4 separate regions of the Homo sapiens genome follow, and all the other regions are linked to region 3. The links come from fine-mapping of genetic effects on plasma protein levels. A gene starts in region 3. Each other region holds a variant in brackets. All regions are shown on one strand. Distances are from middle to middle.

Region 1 (5,149 bases), 55 kb after region 3:
CTTGGCCTACCAAGTAGCTGAGACCACAGGGGCACACCACTATGCCTGGCTAATTTTTTTTGTGTTTTTTTTTTTTTTTTGGTAGAGATGGGGTCTTGGCATGTTGCCCAGGCTGGCCTGGAACATTTGGGCTCAAGAGATCCTCCTGCCCCGGCCTCCCAAAGTGCTGGAATTACAGGCGTAAGCCACTGAATCTGGCCTGAGCACAGTGTTCTGTAGGGTGACTATTCCATCTTCTTTCTGGGTTGAAACAATCGTTTGGGCTGTTTCCAATTTCCATCAAAATTGCCATAATCGAGAGTCAATAAACATCCTCATGAATGCTGCCTTGAAGGGTTTCTTGGACACAGAGATGGAGGGTGAAATTGCTGGGTCCTAAGGCACTCATTTAAAATTTTAATAGATGCCACCAAATTACCCCTTTAAAGCAACCCAACCCACCTACACACCCACCAGCTGGATAAGAACATTTGTTTTACTTTATCTTGTTTTTGAAATGAAGTGTCGCTCTGTTGCCCAGGCTGGAGTGCAGAGGCACGATCTCAGCTCATTGCAACCTCTGCCTCTGGGGTTCAAGCAATTCTCCTGCCTCAGCCTCCCAAGTAGGTGGGATTACAGGTGCCCACCCCACGCCAGGCTAATTTTTGTATTTTTAGTAGAGATGGGGTTTCACTATGTTGGCCAGTCTAGTCTCGAACCCCTGACCTCAAGTGATCCTCAAATTACTCTTTTAAAACAACCCAACCCACCTACACATCCACCAGCTGGGTAAGAACGTTTATTCTTCACACCTTTGCCCAAACTGGATAGGTCAAACAATGTGCTGGGTCCAAACCAGTTTTTTTTTTTTTTTTTTTTTTTTGAGATGGAGTCTCGCTCTGTTGCTCAGGCTGGAGTGTAGTGGTGTGCTCTTGGCTCACTGCACCCTCCACCTTCTGGTTTCAAGCGATTTTTCTGCCTCAGCCTATTAGTAGAGATGGGGTTTTGCCATTTTGCCCAGGCTGGTCTCGAACTCGTGACCTCAAGTGATCCACACCCCTCAGCCTTGCAAAGTGCTGGGAATACAGGCGTGAGCCACCGCGCCGGGCCCAGACTAGTATTTTTGAGTGTTTCCTTTGGTCATCCATGTTTCCTTTTCTGGGACCTAGCCCCAACTCTTCAGATAATAAAATGACTTCAGATGGAATTCTGTGTTAATTACTCCCACGGTTTTTTCTGGCCTATGGGGTCCTGCGGGGGACAGGATGGAGCAGGGGCAGACTGAGGGACAGAAGGGGCTTGAAGGAGAGCGAGGTGCCACTGTCTCCCCAGCAGGAGGAATTGAAACTCAGGAGAGGCTGCAGGAGTAGGACCAGACTCCAGAGTCCAAGCCCTCGGTCAAGGGTACCCTCCACGGGTGTCGGGGAGGAAGGGCAGCTTCCAGGCAGTTCCATGTGGGCCAGGCAGGCTGTGGGGCTGAGCCAATAGCAGCTCTTCCTGCCTGACACTTCCTGGACTTGTCCTATCTTTTTCCCCCGTGTCCCGCTTCCCACAGCGCTGACGTCTGTCTGTCCGGGTGCAGGGAGAAGGGAGGAAGAGGGGAGAGGTGGGGCGGTGCAAAGGTGAGGCTGTGCTCAGCCCTGACGCTCAGCAAAACCGATAACCAGCACTTTCATTACGTGCACGCCCCAGGGCCACGTCCCTGCCGCTGTCTTGGTCCTGAAGCCTGTTCTGCCCCAGCCCCCTGCCCGCTGGGCCCATGCAGCTGTTGGGGCTCCTCGGCCTCCTCTGGATGCTCAAGGCCTCCCCGTGGGCCACAGGTAAGGGGGAGAGGCGGAAGGGGGTTGGAGAAAAGCTCCTGATGTGATGTTCCAGGAAAGGGGAGGGAAAAGTGGCTGTAAGGCCTGGGGAGGGGGGATAAGAAGGCACCGCTTGGGGCTCTGGGTGCAGGGAGAACCGAGGCACGGCCTGACTGGGGGAGGGGGCGGTGAGGAGAGGTTTCTTCCAGAGCTCCAGGTGCAGGGAAAACCGAGGTTGGGAAAGAGTGAGGGAGCTGGGTCTCTGCCACTCTCCACCAAGCACTGAGCAGGTTGCAGCGGCTGAGCCCCAATCTGTATCTGCAGCTGGAGGGTAGAGGGTGGGATTTACGTCTTCCCAGAGCAGTGCCCTTCCTGTCTTGACTCCTTCTGTCACCTGCCTCACGCCCCCAGCTTGAGTGTCCCCTTCACACTGGCCTCTCCCTCCCTGACAGCCCTCTAACTTCTACCCCTGGTCTCGGTCCTCTGGTTTCAGCCTCTCTGCCTTTTGTCCCCCGGCGGCTCCTCCCCAGCTCTGCCGTCACTCTCTTACCCCGGCCAGGGCCCATGTGTCTGGGTACAGCTGTTGGTACCAGGGCCGGGGCAGGGAGCTCCTGATGTCCACTTCGCTTCCAAGGGTGCGTCTGAGACTACCCGTCGTGGGGTCCCAGGCTTCTCTCTTCTGCCCTGCAGGAACACCTCGCAATTCCTCTATACTTCTCTTTTCTCTGTACTTCAGTGTCTGCTTCTGATCCCCGATCCCAGGCCACCCAGCCTACAGGCCCATGAGTCCCCTTCTCAGTCACCTCCAGGGCCACATCCTGGAGCCAAGGGCTGTAGCCTGGGGATTCTCATAATCCCTGACCCCACTTCCCTGGCACCCACGAGCTAGGTTGAGACGTGACACCCCAGCTCTCAGCCACAAGATGGGCTGTGCCCGAGGTGAGGGGTAGCAGGTCGGGTACCTCCCACTTCCCATCTGCTGTGGCTGCCTGTCTTCCTTGTCCCTGACACCCCCGACAGCCGGATCTCTGATCCTAACTCTGACAAATTGTGAAATGGGTTGAAATCCACATGCTGGGGTTCATGCTTGTAAACTAATGAATCCCACGGCCAAAAGGGAATAGTATAGAAAAATATGTCTATTTGTGTGATGAACACTCACTGCTAAGCCTTAAGGTCTCCAGAACTCATCACGCCTGACTGCTGAGGTAGCTCCTTCTGGAAGTTTCCTTTTCTATGCTGTCTCTCTGCCTCTTCACCTAGTCCTCACTCCATGCCCTTTGAAGTCATTAGTGTGTGAGCTTAGCCTGTTTCTCTTTGGTGTTCTCTGGGCAG[TTTTTTG/T]TTTTTGTTTTTGTTTTTGTTTTTGATGGAGTCTTGCTCTGTCACCCAGGCTGGAGTGCAGTGGCACCATCTCAGCTCACTGCAGCCTCTGCTTCCTGGGTTCAAGCGATTCTCCTGCCTCAGCTACAGGTACACGCCACTACGCCTGGCTAATTTTTGTATTTTGTTTTAGTAGAGAAAGGGTTTCACCATGTTGGTCAGACTGGTCTCGAACTCCTGACCTCAAGTGATCTCCTGCCTTGGCCTTTCAAAGTGCTGGGATTACAGGCATGAGCCACCGTGCCTGGCCCTCTTTGTTCAGCTTTCCCTGTCTCCTGGTTTTTGTGATGCGCCCCCTGCCAGGACATGGCTGGGTTCTCTCTTTTTCTCTTTGAAAGCGGAGTCAGCCCAGACAGCAGCAGGGTGCCGGGAGAAGCAGTGGTGGGAGCAGAAGGTTAATGGGGGGATGGGAGCACTCCAGGCAGTAGCAGGGGGAGGAGAGGAAGGGGCAGAGGGAGGAGGAGCCTGGGTGTGACCAGAGGAGGGAAGGGAGGGGAGGGAGGCTCTGCCCAGCTCGGCTATATCAGGACAGGAGGACCTGCCATGACAAGGCCAAGGCCCGGTGAGGAATGAGGGCTCCCATGCCCCACTGCTCCCCTAGGAGCAGACAGGCAGTCGTCTCCAGCACCACAAAGCACCCAGCTCCAAGCTGCCTCTGATGCAGGAGTCAGCTGTAATATGCCCTGCCCTCTGTGATGCTGCCTGGAAAATGGGTGAGTGAGTAGCTTACATGAGTGATGTAACAAAATGACCCACGGATTTACCAGTGGATTCCTCTGCTCTGCCGCCAATGCAGGAACTTTATCCACGGCCACATCCATCTCTCAAGTGCCTTTCCCCAGAGCAGAAGCAGCCAGCGCTGTGCTCAGCAATTCTCCACACTCCAGAGACCTGGCTGGGTGGCCACTTGGTGTCCCCCAGCTCGCCTCTCCTGCTCCTGGCCACAGGGAAAATGCACCTATGACACTCACTACCTCCCCCCATGACACACTCATCTCTGAAACATTGCTCAACTCTCCAGTCAGTTCCAACACCTCAACCACCCCGACGTCCAAGTTTGCCTTCAAGGTTGAAACCACTCCACCCACCGTGTTGGTCTATTCAGCCACCACTGAGTGCGTGTATCCAACGAGCTTTATAATCACCATCTCCCACCCCACCTCCATCTGTGTGACCACGACGCAGGTGGCCTTCACCAGCTCTTACACCTCGACTCCCGTGACACAGAAGCCAGTGACCACCGTCACCAGTACTTACTCTATGACCACTACTGAGAAAGGAACGTCAGCCATGACATCTTCTCCCTCTACCACCACTGCAAGGGAAACTCCCATAGTGACAGTGACACCCTCCTCTGTGTCAGCCACAGACACAACCTTCCACACTACAATCTCGTCTACAACTAGAACCACAGAAAGGACTCCCCTGCCCACTGGAAGCATCCATACAACCACGTCCCCAACCCCAGTATTTACTACTCTCAAAACAGCAGTGACTTCCACTTCCCCCATCACTTCTTCAATCACTTCCACAAATACAGTGACTTCTATGACAACGACCGCCTCCCAGCCCACAGCCACTAATACATTGTCATCACCCACTAGGACCATTTTATCTTCCACACCTGTCCTGAGCACAGAAACAATCACCAGTGGTATCACAAACACCACCCCCCTATCCACCTTGGTGACCACACTCCCCACTACCATCAGCAGGTCTACACCTACATCTGAGACCACCTACACTACTTCTCCCACCAGCACTGTCACAGACTCCACTACCAAAATCGCCTACTCCACAAGTATGACAGGTACATTGTCCACAGAGACTTCTCTCCCACCCACCTCTTCCTCTCTCCCAACCACAGAAACAGCCACGACTCCTATGACAAACTTGGTAACCACCACCACTGAGATCTCCTCCCACAGTACTCCCAGCTTCTCTTCATCAACCATCTACTCCACAGTCAGCACATCCACAACTGCCATCTC
Region 2 (5,149 bases), 37 kb after region 3:
GACAAGGTTCTGGGAGGTAGGAGGGGGTTCATGCCTGAGAACCACTGAGGGAGCCTCTTTCTTGTCTCATTGTACCTCCAATCTTTCTCATGAGCACCAAGAGGTGGAAAAGAGATTGCGAGTGAACTTGGGGTCTGCTAGATCCTGATGCACCCAGGGGGATTCTAAGTTGTCATGCTGGCCCACTCCTGGCCTCTGAGAATTCATTAAAATGTTGTTTTCCTATCACCTGCTTTTTTGGTGGCCACTTCTTCCTCCTGTGCTCTGACAAAGGTGGAACTTTTCATGTGTCCTGTCTCTCCTGAGAGGGTGCGGTCACTCTTTGGACCTCAGTTCACCTGGTTGCCTTGAAGCCTAAATTTCTGATGGGCTCAAGAAATGCCAAAACCTATAGATTACCCAGCTTTTTCTTCTTTTTATGGTAGGAGTGATAGTCTCTTGTGGATTTATTTTATGTATTAATTTTATTGCACTTTTTGTAGAGATGGGGGCCTTGCTAGGCTGCCCAGGCTGGTCTTGAGCTCCTGGCCTCAAACGATCCTCCTGCCTTGGCTTCTCAAAATGCTGGGATTACAGGTGTCAGTCACCATGCCCAGCCTCTTGTGGCTTTTTTACTCTAAGTGAAAGCATAAATCCAATAATTTTTATTTTTATTGTTATTGTTTGGAGATGAGTCTCACTCTGCCACGCAGGCTGGAGTGCAGTGGTACAATCCCGGCTCACTGCAACCTCTGCCTTCCAGGTTCAAGTGATTCTTCTGCCTCAGCCTCCTGACCAGCTGGGATTACAGGCACATGCCACCACGCCTGGCTAATTTTGTATTTTTAGTAGAGATGGAGTTTCACCATGTTAGCCAGGCTAGTCTCAAACTCCCGACCTCAGGATCTGCCCACCTCGGCCTCCCAAAGTGCTGGGATTACAGGCGTGAGCCATTGTGCCCAGCAAAAATCCAATAATTTTTAATAACTCAAAATATGATTTTGACTACGTAAATTTTTTTTTTTCCCTTTGTCCCTCTTTGTAATTTGATGCTTTGGTATCTCAGTTCTAGTTTTTGATTTGGCTCCAGGTAGTACAAGTTCTCATGGATTACATGTATGGTTTAGAATCCTGAAGTCAATGAGATGAGAGCAGACCTAACATCAAACACTTGAAGTAAAGAAATTTATGTGGAAGGAATATATAAAATGAGTTTACATTGGGTAGTTTGGATAAAGCATAACATTAGAGAAGGGTACATGTAGCTAGATGTGTCTTTACCTTTAAAAAAACTTGAATATTGAGGCTGGGTGCAGTGGCTCATGCCTGCAATCTTAGCACTTTTGGAGGCCAAGACGGGCGGATCACTTGAGGTCAGGAGTTTGAGACCAGCCTGGCCAACATGGTGAAACTATTTTTAGTCTCTACTAAAAATACAAAAATTGGCCAGGCATGGTGGTGCATGCCTGTAATCCCAGCTACTCAGGAGGATGAGGCAGGACAATCACTTAAACCTGGGAGGTGGAGGTTGCAGTTAGCTGAGATGGCACCACTGCACTCCAGCCTGGGCAAAAGAATGAGACTCAGTCTCAAAAAACAAACAAAAGAACCCAACAAACTTGAATAGCGAAAGGAGGATATTTTGATATGTTATTTCCATTTTCAGTAATAAATACATGTGTGTATCCAATAACTTATTAAAATGTAGATTTGTTTATTGAAAAACTTATTAGCATGAGGTCAGGAGATCAAGACCATCCTGGTTGACACAGTGAAACCCCATCTCTGCTAAGAAAGTACGAAGGAAAATTAGCTGGGTGTGGTGGCAGTGGTAGGCGCCTGTAGTCCGAGCTACTCAGGAGCCTGAGGCAGGAGAATGGTGTGAACCCGGGAGGCGGAGGTTGCAGTGAGCCGAGATCGTGCCACTGCACTCCAGCCTGGGTGACAGAGAGAGACTCCATCTCAAAAAAAAAAAAAAAAAAACAAACAAACTTATTAGGAGGTTTTAGTGGCAGATTAGACAGAGCTGAAGAGAGAATCTGTAAACTGAGAGAACAGAAGAAACTCACCACATGCTTCATGAGCAGCTATGAGACAGAAAATACGGAAGAGTAGTTAAAAACACATGAAGAATAGAAAGGGAAGGGTTAACCTCTATTTAATTGCAGTTCCTGGAGAAAAGAGTTAACGGGGGAAGAGAAAATATGTGAAGAGAGAATGGCTGGCAAGTTTCCCAAACTGAGAAGAGACCTTATCAGCTTTGAGAAGCCAAGGAATCCCAAGCATGATAAATACAAAGAAATCCATGCCCAGAAACATCCTGGTGAAGCTTCAGAATATTAACGAAACAGAAAGTCTTAAAGCAGCAAGAGAAAAAAAATTAAAGGCCTGACAGATTAAGCTCAGTCTTCTGTATAGCAACCTTGAAGCCGGAAGACAATGGAATCTTATTCATGTGCTGAAAAAAAAAAAAACTGTCAACTTAGAATTCTATACCTAGTAAAAATACTTTCAAGAGGCCGGGTGCGGTGATTCACACCTGTAATCCCAGCACTTTGGGAGGCCGAGGCAGGCAGATCATGAGGTCAGGAGTTTGAGACCAGCCTGGCCAACGTGGTGAAACCCCGTCTCTACTAAAATACAAAAAAATTAGCCGGGGTTGGTGGTGCATGCCTGTAGTCCCAGCTACTTGGGAGGCTGAGGCAGGAGAATCACTTGAATCTGGGAGGTAGAGGCTCACCATCTACCCGGCTAATTTTTTTGTATTTTTAGTAGAGACGGGGTTTCACCACGTTGGCCAGGCTGGTCTCGAACTCCTGACCTCATGATCCGCATCCCCCCTCCCCCCGCGGCCTTCGAAAGTGCTGGGATTACAGGCGTGAGCCACCGCACCCAGCTCAATGGCTGAACTTTTAGCTTCATTTTAGCAGAGTTCAGACACCCCCATAATCCTAATCTTGTGAGTTGTCATTAGTTTTACAAAGGCAGTTTGGTCCCAGAACAAACAGGTGGTAGTTTTGGGAAGGGCTATTATCATCCTTGCTTTAAGTTTAAACCATAAATTAAATTCCTCCCCAAGTTAACCTAGCCTATGCCCAGGAATGAACAAGGACAGTTTAGAGGCTAGAAGCAAGAAGAAGTCAGCTAGATTACATTATTTTACTGCCATCATTTTCCTGTGTC[G/A]GGTCTTACTCACTGTCATAATTTCTTTTTTCTTTTTTTTTAAAGACAGAGTCCTACTCTGTCACCCAGGCTGGAGTACAGTGGGGTGATCTCGGCTCACTGCAACCTCTACCTCCCAGATTCGAGTGATTCTCCTGTCTCAGCCTCCTGAGTAGCTGGGATTACAGGCACCTGCCACCATGTCCGGCTAAGTTTTAGTAGAGACGGGTTTTGCCATGTTGGCCAGGCTGGTCTCGAACTCCTGACCTCAAGCACTCCACCTACCTTGGCCTCCCAAAGTGCTGGGATTACAGGTGTGAGCCACTGCACCCGGCCTCTGTCATAATTTTTGCAAAGGCGGTTTCAGTGGGGTCTCCAAACCACTCTCCTTGGCCAGGTTACCAGTTTCCCACCTGGGCACAGTGGGTTAGGGTCCTGGGGGTTGGTCCTCCCAACTCCAGTGTCTTCTGGTACCATCCTCCCTCCTTGCAGCAAATATAGTGTCTGTGGTCCAACTCTGGAGTTACTGTGGCCAGAGGCTCTTAGTTACCAGATTAACTGTCCCTTCCCCACTCCTTTCCCCACCAACCATCTGCTTCTGTACCAGCTACCTGGCTAGGAGGATTTCTACCTCCCCCTACCTAGGGGTCTGGCCCTGTGGTAAGACTGCACCCACCCGTGAAGCCACGCCCCATCCAGGAAACCACACCCACTCAAGAAGCCCTGCCCACCCAAGAAGCCCCACCTGCCAGCAAGCCACAGCCATCCAAGAAACCCCACCCATCCAGGGAGCCCTGCCCAGCCCATCAGATGGTCCCACTCACCCATGAAAGCCACTGCCGAGGTATTCACAGCCCTGCTGCTATTCGGCCTGCCCATCAGGAGCCAGTCCACAGAACTCCATTAACCTTGCTGTCAAAACAGGGTTTCCTGGCTGGGGGGCTTACTCCTGTAATCCCAGCACTTTGGGAGGCTGAGGCGGGTGGATCATTTGAGGTCAGGAGAATAAGACTAACCTGGCCAACATGGGGAAACCTCGGGAGTTCTAGACCAGCCTGACCAACATGGTGAAACCCCACCTCTACTAAAAATACAAAATTAGCTTGGCATGGTGGCATGGGCCTCTGATCCCAGCTACTCAGGAGGCTGAGGCAGGAGAATGGCTTGAACCTGGGAGACTGAGGTTGCAGTGAGCCAAGATGAAGCCACTGCACTCCAGCCTGGGTGACAGAGTGAGACTCTGTCTCACAAAAACAAAAACAAAACAAACAGGGTTTCTTTTTATAGACAATCTCCAAAGGCAATTTCATGATGATTAGATTCAAACAGGATGGCACCTAGGAATTGTCCAATCTTCAACATTATCTAGAAAGTTTCTCCCAAATGATGCTTTAGTTTAGAATACTGTACCCCTCTCTCTCTCTGCATTTTCACAATCTGAGGTTTTTCTTGTTTGATCGTTTATTTTATTTTATTTTACTATTCTATTTTTTGCACCAGAACGCCCATGGAAACACATGCAGTCCCGTGACCTCACGCTGGATTTTTCAGTTTCTAGAAATTAAATCAGCAAATTTGGAGTCCAAAGAAATGGGTTGCTAGGTGTGGTGGCACACCCCTGTAATCCCAGCACTTTGGGAGGCTGAGGCAGGTGGATCACTTGAGGTCAGCAGTTTGAGACCAGCCTGGCCAACATGGCAAAACCCTGTCTCTACTGAAAACATAAAAATTAGCTGGGCATGGTGGTGCACGCGTGTATTCCCAGCTACTCGGGAGGCTGAGGCAGGGAAATTGCTTGAACCTAGGAGGTGGATGTTGCAGTGAGCCAAGGTCACGCCACTGCATGCCGGCTTGGGAGACATAGCGAAACTCCATCTCAGAAAAAAGAAAAAAAAAGAAATAGGTTGTTTAAAACTTGACAATAATAGAATTTTACATGAGAACTATGGGGGTGTCTAGCATGTTTCCCTTGAGTGTAGGCTGTCAGCATTGGTGAAGTGATCGCTTT
Region 3 (5,113 bases):
GTCATTCCCACCAGTGCCGCCTGGAGGACAGCCCACAAGGTGGGCCAGCTGCGTGGCCCTGCGACGGGCCTCTCCCATGCCCACCGTGGCCCAGGGTCCATTGGGGGCACCGCTCTGCAGCACGGCCCTGTGGAACAGGCCCCGGCTGGGCGGGGACAGCAGGTGCATGCCCACCGAGGCGGCTCCCGCGCTCTCCCCAAACAGCGTCACTGATGTCGGGTCACCCCCGAAGGCTGCCACGTTCTCCTGCACCCACTGCAGGGCCAGCCTCTGATCCAGGAGACCCACATTGCCCGGGGCCTCTCGGCTCCCCGGCAGGGCCAGGAAGCCAAAGGCTCCCACCCGGTAGTTCATGGACACCAGCACAGTCCTCTCGGCCTGTACCAAGAAGCGGCCATCGTACACGTCCAAGGAGGAGGCCCCACTGTAGAAGCCACCCCCATAGATCCAGACGAGGACAGGGGTGGGGGATGTAGGCCGGGGGTATGGTGTCCACACGTTGAGGTACAGGCAGTCCTCGCTCAGCTCACGGTTGGGGTTCCACATCTCGGTGCCCTCAAAACCTGGGTATAGGGTGTCCACATATTGGTAGCAGACACTCTGGAAGGTTGTAGCGTCTACCACCCCTGACCAAGGCTGCTTGGGCTCCGGTGGCAGAAAGCGACGGGGTCCCATGGGTGGCTCCGCAAAGGGGATGCCCAGGAAAGCAGAGACAGGGCCCCCGGGGGTCTTCAGGCGAATGCCCCGCAGCCGGCCCCCACGCACCGTCACCAGCAGCTCTGCATCCTCCCGGCCCTCAGCCCCCACTCCTCCACCCAGGAGCCAGAGGAGGAGGAGAAGGAGTGGGGAAGCCAGGGAAGGCGTGTGCAGCAGACACTGCGGGGGCCTCATGGCTGCAGGGCAGGCGGCGTCTGCTGGGAGAAAGAAAGGGAAAGGGTGAAGGGTCGGTCGAGAAGCCAGGAGGGAGGAGATTAGGGCACTGTCGGCCCAAGGGTTATCGCTCAGCTGCAGAGGAGGTGGGGCAGGTTGGCAAAGATGAGGGGAGAGAGGGAGGGAGGGAAGGAGACAGGCAGAGACAAGGACACAGGCCAGCGGGCAGGAGGGGAAAGAGATCAGGCAGACACCCATATCCAGACAAATGCAGGGAACAGAGAGGAGCACCCTCTCTGCTCCGCAGGGGTCCACTGCCCTCACCTCTTCCCGGAACTGGGCCGGGCCCAGCTCGTGCAGTGAGGGCACCAGAAGCCTCAGTCCACGAACAGGCCACCCGACAGGGCGCGGCCTCACGGACGGGCAGCGCCGCTGGGGGAGCTTGCGGCGGCCTGAAGCGCAGCCCCGCTCTCCTGGGTCGGCCAGACCCGGGGCCCTGGGGGGCGGTGGGCTGGGCATTCAGGGTGTGGAAGCCTCAGGTCCCGGGGTCCCCCAAATCCTGCCTAGTCCACTCCCCACCCAACCCTGCCCCTTCTCATCCAATGTCTGGCACCGAGCGCTGATGCCCGCGGGTTCCCATCAGCTGCGCACGCTCCCAGCCCAGCCCCAGCAAACAGGCTCGCCAGCCCGCGTCCCCCAGGACTCGAGAGCCCCCCATCCGTCTGAAGCTGCCGTGCACGCCGCCGCCGGCGGAGGGCAGTAGAGACCGAGAAAAGGTCGGCGCTCCCCGCCCCGAGCCAGGAGCCGGGAACTTGGGGAGGGGGCCTGGGGGCTCGAGGGCCTTGCAGAGCCGCCTGAAGGGCGAGCCGGGACGCCTGCGTTCCCGGGACTCCGGAGATCCCCGGCTGCAGGGGCGGGGGCGCTATTTTGGGGGCAGCAGCTGCTACGGTTCCGGCATCTCCAGCCAAAGGATCAAAATTCCCCGGGTGGGAACTCCCCCCTCTCCCGCCGGTCACTCCTAGCCCAGCCCCCGCCGCCCTGAGCGGGGGGTGGTGGTGCTGCTGGAGATTAACTAGGAAACCCGAGTGGCGCTAATTATAACTCGGGGCTTCCGCCGAGCCTCCCCTTCCCAAAAAATAGAGATGGAGTCTCCGCGGGAGGGGGCGTCCTGGGCCTCGGAGGGGGCCTCTGCGGGGCGCTGCGCAGGGGCGCTGGCTTGTGGCCCTGGGGATGGGGGTGCCCAGCCCGGCGCCGGGAACCTGCGCAGCTCGGGTACCGCCCCAATTAGGGGGTGTCTTCCAGTGGCCCCGGACTAGGGAGCGATCGGGGAAGGGGTGCTCGGGGGTCCCCGCGGGAATCGGAGCGCAGAGGCGGCGGCCGTTCCCGCGGGCTCGGGCTCCTGCGTGGGCGTCGGTGAGTGTGAGGCGGCCGGGGAAGAGTTCCGGACGAGTGCGGGGCAGCGGAGGGCGGCGCGGGGCAGGCCCGGGGAAGCGGGAGCCGTCCCGTTAGGGGGGCCTGGACCCCTCGGGGAGCGCACGGTGCCCCGGACCCGGGCCTTAAGGAGAGTCCCGGGCGGGGAGGGAGACTCACCTGAGGCGGCCGAGCCGGGCCGGGCCGGGCCGCGCCGGGAGCTGGAGGCGGCCGATGTTCCCCGGCGCAGGCTGAGCCGACTCTGACAGCCGCCGCCTCCGGCCCCCCGCACACACCCCCTCCGGGCCTCACAGCGCCCCCGCCCGCCCCCGCCCACTGTCTCCGCCCCCGCCCCTCCCCGCTCTCCCGGGTGGCCACCTCCCCTCTCTCTCCCTCCCTTGGAGCCGAGACCCGGAGACCCCGGGGCCCAGACGCACTCCAGTGCCAGACGCCGACCGACGACAGAGCGCAGTGACAGACGCGACCCAAAGACCTGCAGCGGCGGAGTAGACACCCACGTGACAGACAGACGGACAGAAGCCCGTGGAGACAGACACGCGCAGACGGACGACCTCATGCAGTGACAGGCACAGACAAACGCAGGGACGACTTTCACAGACGGACGGACACACTTGGACACCCTGTCGGTCTCGCTCGAGGCTGGTGAAGTTAGCGCAAGGCCAAGGGGTCATGCATCCCCGGCCACGACACAGACGGGTGGCATGGGAGGAGAGGCATGTGGGAGTGTGGCAGAGTACCGTCCCCTTAGGGGTCCAGGTGGCACGGGTGCAGAAAAGGTGACGTGGGACACTCCTGGGGATGAAAGGACACCTGTGGGAATGGAGATGTAAAATGGGATCGCTAGTGGAAATGAGGTGGGAGGGCATGGAGACAGGAGACCCCTGGGGGAGGAAGGGGTGACTTGGGACACCTGAGAAGGCAGGACAGCGTGGTAGCACGCGCAAGGCTGCTGGGCGAGGCCGCACTCCGCGGCGGCAGTGGAAACTTCTGGAACCCCCGCGGGTGGGTCTGTGCTGGTTCCCTGACGGGTGACTTCGGACTTTCGTCACCAGGGTCCGGTCGGGGCATGACATCACCAGGCCTAGCATTCATTGGCCACGCGGCTGGCAGGTGGGAGCGGCCTGGCTCGGGCGCCCCCAGCCTGCTCCGAGGGGCCTGACCCGCGCAGATTGCCCCCCGCCCCGCCCTCCAGGAGTTCACCCGTGTGGACAGGGCTGCTGCAGCGGGGTCCCCACGACCGAGGTGCATGCGGCAATACCGCGCGGCGCCTGCTTCCTGGAGGCGGCCGGCTCAGGAGCCCCCGAGACCCCGCGTGGGAGAGCGGCCGGCGCAGGCCAGCGTCGGGCGTGCGTGCGCGCGCGCGGCGGTGCGGGGCGCGGCGTGGGGTGGGCGCGTGCGCACACGCTCGCTCTAACCGCCGCGCGCCCCGCAGCGCCCCGCAGCGCCTCGGGCACGCGGGCGCCGCCGCCAGGGACCGCGGGCACCGGGTTGCGGGGCCTCGCAGGGGTTGAATCCGGAGTCTTGCCAGTCCCTGGGCCGCGCGGTTCCCGGCTCTCCAAGCTGGGCGGGCCCCACGCCCGCTCGCCCCACGGGAACCGGGTCCCGCAGGCACGGTCACCCGCGCTCCGCTCGCTGGAGACGGCCGCCAGGTGGCGCAAAAAGCAGCCACTCGGGCCTCGGAGACTGGGCTGGGTTGGGGGTGTTGGGGAGGTGAACCCCTCGCCATCTGTGCCCACTGTCTCCGGCTTTCCCCGCCCCAATCTCAGGCAACCCCAAATCCCCTGCCTGGACACCGAGGCTCCTTGTATCCGGCCTTCAGCGTTCTGGCCGCACTAGTTGAAGGCTCCTCACTGGCCAGACCATGTGCCCTAGTTGAGATCCCTGAAGAGCAGATGTAAGGGCTGTGCATGGGGGAGGGGACAGGAGGGTGGATGGTGGGTGTTGCTGCGGGGGGAATGAATCTGAGGCAGGTTTCTAAGCGTGGTAATTATGAATTATTAAAATGATGGGGCCGCGTGTGGCCCCTAGTGCGGTGCCTGTAATCCCAGCACTCTGGGAGGCCGAGACAGGAGGATCGCTTCAGTCCAGGAGTTGGAGACTAGCCTGGGCAACATAGCGAGACTCCCTTCTCCGCAAAAAAATAAAATGATGGAAACAAACTGTGAACGAGTGCTCTGAGGCCTGCCCCAGTCCTGAGGCTTTAGGGATTTTTGGCCCTGCTAGTGATGAAGGCTTGCCCCTGTCACCCTCCAGACGAACTGTGCCACGCAGGTGTCACCTAACCTCTGTCGTCACGAGTTTCTAGGCCTGTACAATGAAGATAGGGAGGGCAGGGATAGTTTATCACCAGGGTTATCATTTCCTGGAACTATCCCTCTTTTCACCTTGAGCTCTCAGCAACCGTTGTCAACACAGGCACCTAACCTGTCAAGCCAGGAGGCGTTTCCCTACATAGTCTAGCATAGTAAACTCCCCACCCTCCACAGCTGTCACTGCAGGGATGTCCTTGATTTTTCCCATTTCTTCTCTCACCATTTCTGTTTATCCAGGAATGAGCCTTGCTTCTACTACCAGTTCTGCCAATTCAGAGAATTTCCCTACCCCTCTTTTATCTCTGTCTCCCACCTTGGAAGGAAGCGCCATTTTTTTTTTTTAGACAGAGTCTCGCTCTGTCGCCCAGGCTAGAGTGTAGAGATGATGCCATCTCAGCTCGCTGCAACCTCTGCCTCCTGGGCTCAAGGATTCTCCTTTCCCAGCCTCCTGAGTAGCTGGGACTAGAGGCGCCTGCCACCACACCTGGCTAATTTTTGTA
Region 4 (5,149 bases), 43 kb after region 3:
TACTCTTAAAATATGGATAATGCAACTGAAGAACTAATTTTCTTTTTCTCTTTCTTCTTTCTTTCTTTCTTTCTTTTTTTCTGTTCTTTCTCTCTTTCTTTCTCTCTCTCTTTCTCTCTTTCTCTCTTTTTTTCTTTCTTTCAAGACAGGGTCTCACTCTGTCACCCAGGCTAAAGTGCAGTGGCACGATCCGGGCTTACTGCAACCTCCACCTCCCGGGTTCAAGTGATTCTCCTGCCTCAGCCTCCCGAGCAGCTGGGATTACAGGCGCCTGCCACCACACCAGGCTAATTTTTGTATTTTTAGCAGAGACAGGGTTTCACCACAGTGGCCAGGCTGGTCTCGAACTCCTGACCTCCGCCCGCCTCGGCCTCCCAAAGTGCTGGGATTACAGGCGTGAGCCACCACGCCTGGCCAGCCAACTTCTATTAATATTTTAGAAAAAGGGGATGCAAGTGCAGGTTTGTTACAAAGGTATATGATGTGATGCTGAGTTTTGGGGTATGAATGAATATGTCACCAAGGTAGTGAGCATAGTATCCAGTAGATCATTTTTTCAGCCCTTGCCCTGCTCCTTCTCTTCTACCTCTAATAGTCCCTGTGTCTATTGTTTTTATTTTTATGTCCATGTGCACCCAATATTTAGCTCCCACTTATAAGTGAGAATAAGCGTTATTTGGTTTTTTGTTTCTGCGTTAGTTAGCTCAGACTAGTGGTTTCCAGCTGTATCCCCGTTGCTGCAATGGACATGATTTTGTTCTTTTTTATGGCTGTGTAGTAATCCATGGTGTATGTATACTGTATTTTTCACCATAGATGGGCATCTAGGTTGATTCCATGTCTTTTCTATTGTGAATACTGTTGTGCCATGGGTGCAGGTGTCCTTTTGGTAGAACAATTTATTTTTTGGGGGGATAGTTACCCAGTAGTGGGGTTGCTGGGTTGGTTGGTACTTCGACTCATAGTTCTTTGAGAAATATCCGAACTGCTCTTCGTAATGGCTGAACAATTTACATTCTGACCAACAGTGAATGAGTGTTCCCTTTTCTCCACAGCCTTGCTGCCATCTGTTTTTTTTTTTTTAAATATATGAGGAAAGTCTTGCTCTGCCACCCAGGCTGGAGTGGAGTGGCATGATCATGGCTCACTGCAGTCTCAGACTCCTGGGCTCAAGCAATCCTCCTGCCTCAGCTTCCTTAGTAGCTGTGACTATAGGCACACACTACACCAACACACACAGATAATTTAAAATTTTTTTTTTTTTGGTAGAGATGAGGTCTCACTATGTTGCCCAGGCCGGTCTCCAACTTCTGACCTCAAGGGATCCTCTAGCCTCTGCCTCCCAAAGTGCTGAGATTTCAGGCATGAGCCACTATACCTGGTCTTTTTTTTTGACTTTTTTTTTTTTTTTTTTTTTTGAGGTGGAGTCGCACTCTGTCGCCCAGGCTGGAGTGCAGTGGGGCCATCTCAGCTCACTGCAACCTCTGCTTCCCGGGTTCAAGTGATTCTCCTGACTCAGCCTTCCGGGTAGCCAGGATTACAGGTGTGTGCCACCATGCCCGACTAATTTTTTTGTGTTTTTAGTAGAGACGGGGGCCAGGCTGGTCTCAAACTCCTGACCTCGAGTGATCTGCCAGCGTCAGCCTCCCAAAGTGCTGGGATTATGGGTGTCAGCCACCATGCCCGACCTTTCTTGACTTTTTAACAAAAGCCCTGATAAATGTAGTTATACCCTGACTTTGCCTCACTATAGGCCCCTGTGCCCACAAACTTCCTATGGTCACTTTCCTAATATCTAAGTGTAAAATTGAGATTAATATCCTCACCACCCTGCAGAATTCCCACACTGACTTCCTAACCTATAGAATAAGAAATGTTAGGATGAGACCAGTGGATGGCTCTTGTCAAAATAGTAAACCAAAAGCAATTCTGCACTGCTGCATTTAATCACAGTGATTTTTTTTTTTTAAAACAGTGTCTCACTATGTTGCCCAGGCTGGTCTTGAACTCCTGGGCTCAAGTGATCCTCCCGTCTCCCAAAGTGTTAGGATTACAAGTGTGAGCCACTGTGCCCAGCTGAAAGATTCGTCTTGACATAACAAAGAATCGCCCTCCAAAACCTATTAATGATTGGCCGGGTATGGTGGCTCACACCTGTAAT[C/T]CCAGCACTTTTGGAGGCCGAGGTGGGCAGATCACCAGGTCAGGAGATCGAGACCATCCTGGACAACATGGTGAAACCCCATCTCTACTAAAAATACCAAAATTAGCTGGGTGTGGTGGCATGTACCTGTAATCCCAGCTACTTGGGAGGCTGAGGAAGGAGAATCACTTGAATCTGGGAGGCAGAGGTTGCAGTGAGGTGAGATTGTGCCACTGCACTGCAGGCTGGTGACAGAGCGAGACTCCGTTTCAAAATAAACAAATAAACATATAAAAAAAACCTATTAATGACCTTAGCTTTATAGATGTACTTAGTGCCATGGTCTGAATGTTTGTGGCTCCCCGAAATCCATATATGTTGCCATCTTAACCCCCAAGGTGATGATATCAGGAGGTGGGGCCTTTAGGAGGTGTTTTAGTCTGTTCTCACATTGTTATAAAGAAATAACTGACACTTCGGGAGTCCGAGGTGGGTGAATCACTTGAGGCCAGAAGTTCGAGACCAGCCTGGCAAACATGGTGAAACCCCTCTCTACTAAAAAATGCAAAAATTAGCTGGCAGTGGTGACACACACCTGTAATCCCAGCTACTCGGGAGGCTGAGGCAGGAGAATCACTTGAACCCGGGAGGTGGAGGTTGCAGTGAGCCAAGATCGCACCACTGCACTCCAGCCTGGATGACAGAGCAAGACTCTGTCTCAAAAAAAAAAAAAAAAAAAAAGAAGGAACTGAGACTGGGTCATATATATGTTTAATTGGCTTAGGGTTCTGCAGGCCATGCAGGAAGCATGGCTGGGGAGGCCTCAGGGAGCTTTTACTCATGGCAGAAGGCAAAGCCTGAGCAGGTGTCTTCACACAGCCAGAGCAGGAGGAAGAGAGAGAGTGGGGAGGTGCCACACACTTTTAAACAACCAGAGCTCATGAAAACTCTACCACAAGAATAGCACCAAGGGGATGGTGTTAAACCATTTATGAAGGATTCACCTCCATGATCCAATCACCTCTCACCAGGCCCCACCTCCAGCACTGGGGATTACATTTTAACATGAGATTTGGGTGGGGACACAGACCCAAACCATATCAGGAGGTGATTAGGCCATGGTGGTGGAGCCCTCATGAATGGGATTAGTGCCCTTATGAAAGAGACCCAGAGGCCAGATAAGGTCATACCCATAATCCCAGCACTTCGGGAGGCTGAGGTAGGTGGATCACTTGAGGTCAGGAGTTCGAGACCAGCCTGGCCAACATGGTGAAATACATCTCTACTAAAAGTACAAAAACTAGCAGGGCATGGTGGCACATGACTGTAGTCCCAGCTACTTGGGAGGCTGAGGCAGGAGAATCATTGATCCTGGGAGGAAGAGGTCGCAGTGAGCCCCAAGCCTGCCTGGGTGACACAGTGAGACTCTGTCTCAGGAAAAAAAAAAAAAAAAAAAAAAAAAGGAGACCTAGAAAGACCCTTGCCCTTCTACCATGTGAAGACACAGAAAGAAGGAACTGTCTATAAGCCAGAAAGCAGGATCTCACTAGACACAAAATCTGCCTTGATCTTGGACTTCCCAGCCTCTAGAACTATGAGAATAAATGTCTGTTGTTTATAAACTACCCAGTTTACAGTATTTTGTTGCAGCAGCCTGAACAGACTAAGATACTTTGCTGATTTTTTTTTTCTTTTTTGTAGCTGTCCTTTAATAGGTTGAGGAAGTTCCTTCTATTTACTAGTTTTCGGAGAGCTTTTATCAGTAATGGACGTCAGATTTTGTCAAATGCTTTTCCTGCATCTATGGAAATGATCATGTGGTTTCTCATCTTTAGACTGTTGACATAAGAAATTACATTGATTCATTTTCAAATGTTTAACCAGCTTTGTATCCCTGGGATTAACCCCACTTGGTCATGATGCATTATTTTTATGTATTGCTATGTTTTATTTCATAATATTTCCTTGAGGATTTTTGTGTCTATATTCATTAGGGCTATCGGTCTAGTTTTCTTGTAATGTATTTGTCTTGGTTTGGTATCAGAATAATGCTGGGCTCATAAACAAAGTTGGGAAGTGTTCCATTTTCTGAAAGAGTTTGTGTACAGTTGGTATGATTTCTTCCTTAAGTGTTTGCTGGAATTCAATAGTAAAGCAATTCAGTCATATTAGCAAGCTTAGATCTTTCTATAGGAAAGACCGTGGTATGATTTTTTTTATTATACTTTAAATTCTAGGATACATGTGCACAACATGAAGGTTTGTTACATAGGTATACATGTGCCATGCTGGTTTGCTGCACCCATCAACTCGTCATTTACATTAGGTATTTCTCCTAATGCCATCCCTCCCCCAGCCCGCCAGCCCCCAACAAAGTCCAGTGTGCGATGTTCCTGCCCTGTGACCAAGTGTTCTCATTGTTCAATTCCCACCTATGAGTGGGAACATGCAGTGTTTGGCTTTCTGTCCTTGCGATAGTTTGCTAAGAATGATGGTTTCCAGCTTCATCCATGTCCCTGCAAAGGACATGAACTCATCCTTTTTTATGGCTGCATAGTATTCCATGGTATATATGTGCCACATTTTCTTGTCTTTTTATTCATTTTCTTTTTTTGAGATGGAGTCTTGCTCTGTCACCCAGGCTAGAGTGCAGTGGTGCAATCTCGGCTCACTGCCAGCTCTGCCTCCCGGGCTCATGCCATTCTCCTGCCTCAGCCTCCTGAGTAGCTGGGACTACAGGCGCCTGCCATCACGTCTGGCTAATTTTTTGTATTTTTAGTAGAGATGGGGTTTCACCACGTTAGCCAGGATGTTCTTGATCTCCTGACCTTGTGATCCACCCTCTTCAGCTTCCCAAAGTGCTGGGATGACAGGCGTGAGCCACCACATACTTTTAAATAAAACGTACACCTCAATAAATTCACTAAGACCAATCATGCTATAGATATCTGGGCTTGCAATTCAAGAATAATATCATTAAAATAAAAGTTTTAAGCACACACTTTAAGA

Direction of the effects. Positions count from the first base shown, and alleles are read on the strand shown. Strength reflects both the effect of a copy and how common the allele is.
In carriers of allele TTTTTTG in region 1, the plasma level of the protein whose gene starts at base 2,547 in region 3 tends to be lower than with T alone (strong association).
For the plasma level of the protein whose gene starts at base 2,547 in region 3, allele G in region 2 goes with a higher level than allele A (strong association).
For the plasma level of the protein whose gene starts at base 2,547 in region 3, C is the low allele of the variant in region 4 and T is the other (strong association).

What was found. PIP is the posterior inclusion probability: the model's chance that the variant is causal. Protein levels are from antibody-based Olink assays in UK Biobank. Linkage for the fine-mapping came from a reference panel and not from the study's own genotypes, which makes the PIPs less certain.
Region 1: its variant is fine-mapped to the plasma level of the ACHE protein (UK Biobank, PIP above 0.99).
Region 2: its variant is fine-mapped to the plasma level of the ACHE protein (UK Biobank, PIP above 0.99).
Region 4: its variant is fine-mapped to the plasma level of the ACHE protein (UK Biobank, PIP above 0.99).

The regions. Positions count from the first base shown.
Region 1 is chr7:100,947,887-100,953,035 of GRCh38, forward strand. MUC3A (mucin 3A, cell surface associated) reads left to right here and starts at 1,648. Exons shown (of 12, transcript NM_005960.2): 1 at 1,648-1,799; 2 at 3,955-5,149. The coding sequence starts at 1,739. The region is part of intron 1 of LOC105375431 (a long non-coding RNA gene); the gene reads right to left. RefSeq lists enhancers at 1,187-2,165, 2,166-3,144, 3,195-3,740. The variant TTTTTTG/T (reference allele first, on the strand shown) is at 3,114.
Region 2 is chr7:100,930,023-100,935,171 of GRCh38, forward strand. No RefSeq gene overlaps it. Among named protein-coding and RNA genes, the nearest start is that of MUC3A, 17 kb to the right of the region's middle. RefSeq lists an enhancer at 3,389-3,890. The variant G/A (reference allele first, on the strand shown) is at 3,163.
Region 3 is chr7:100,893,342-100,898,454 of GRCh38, forward strand. It overlaps ACHE (acetylcholinesterase (Yt blood group)), which reads right to left and starts at 2,547. Exons shown (of 5, transcript NM_000665.5): 1 at 2,461-2,547; 2 at 1-911. The coding sequence starts at 891. RefSeq lists enhancers at 1-92, 2,364-2,984 and silencers at 2,339-2,388, 2,449-2,598, 3,821-3,900.
Region 4 is chr7:100,936,264-100,941,412 of GRCh38, forward strand. No RefSeq gene overlaps it. Among named protein-coding and RNA genes, the nearest start is that of MUC3A, 11 kb to the right of the region's middle. The variant C/T (reference allele first, on the strand shown) is at 2,162.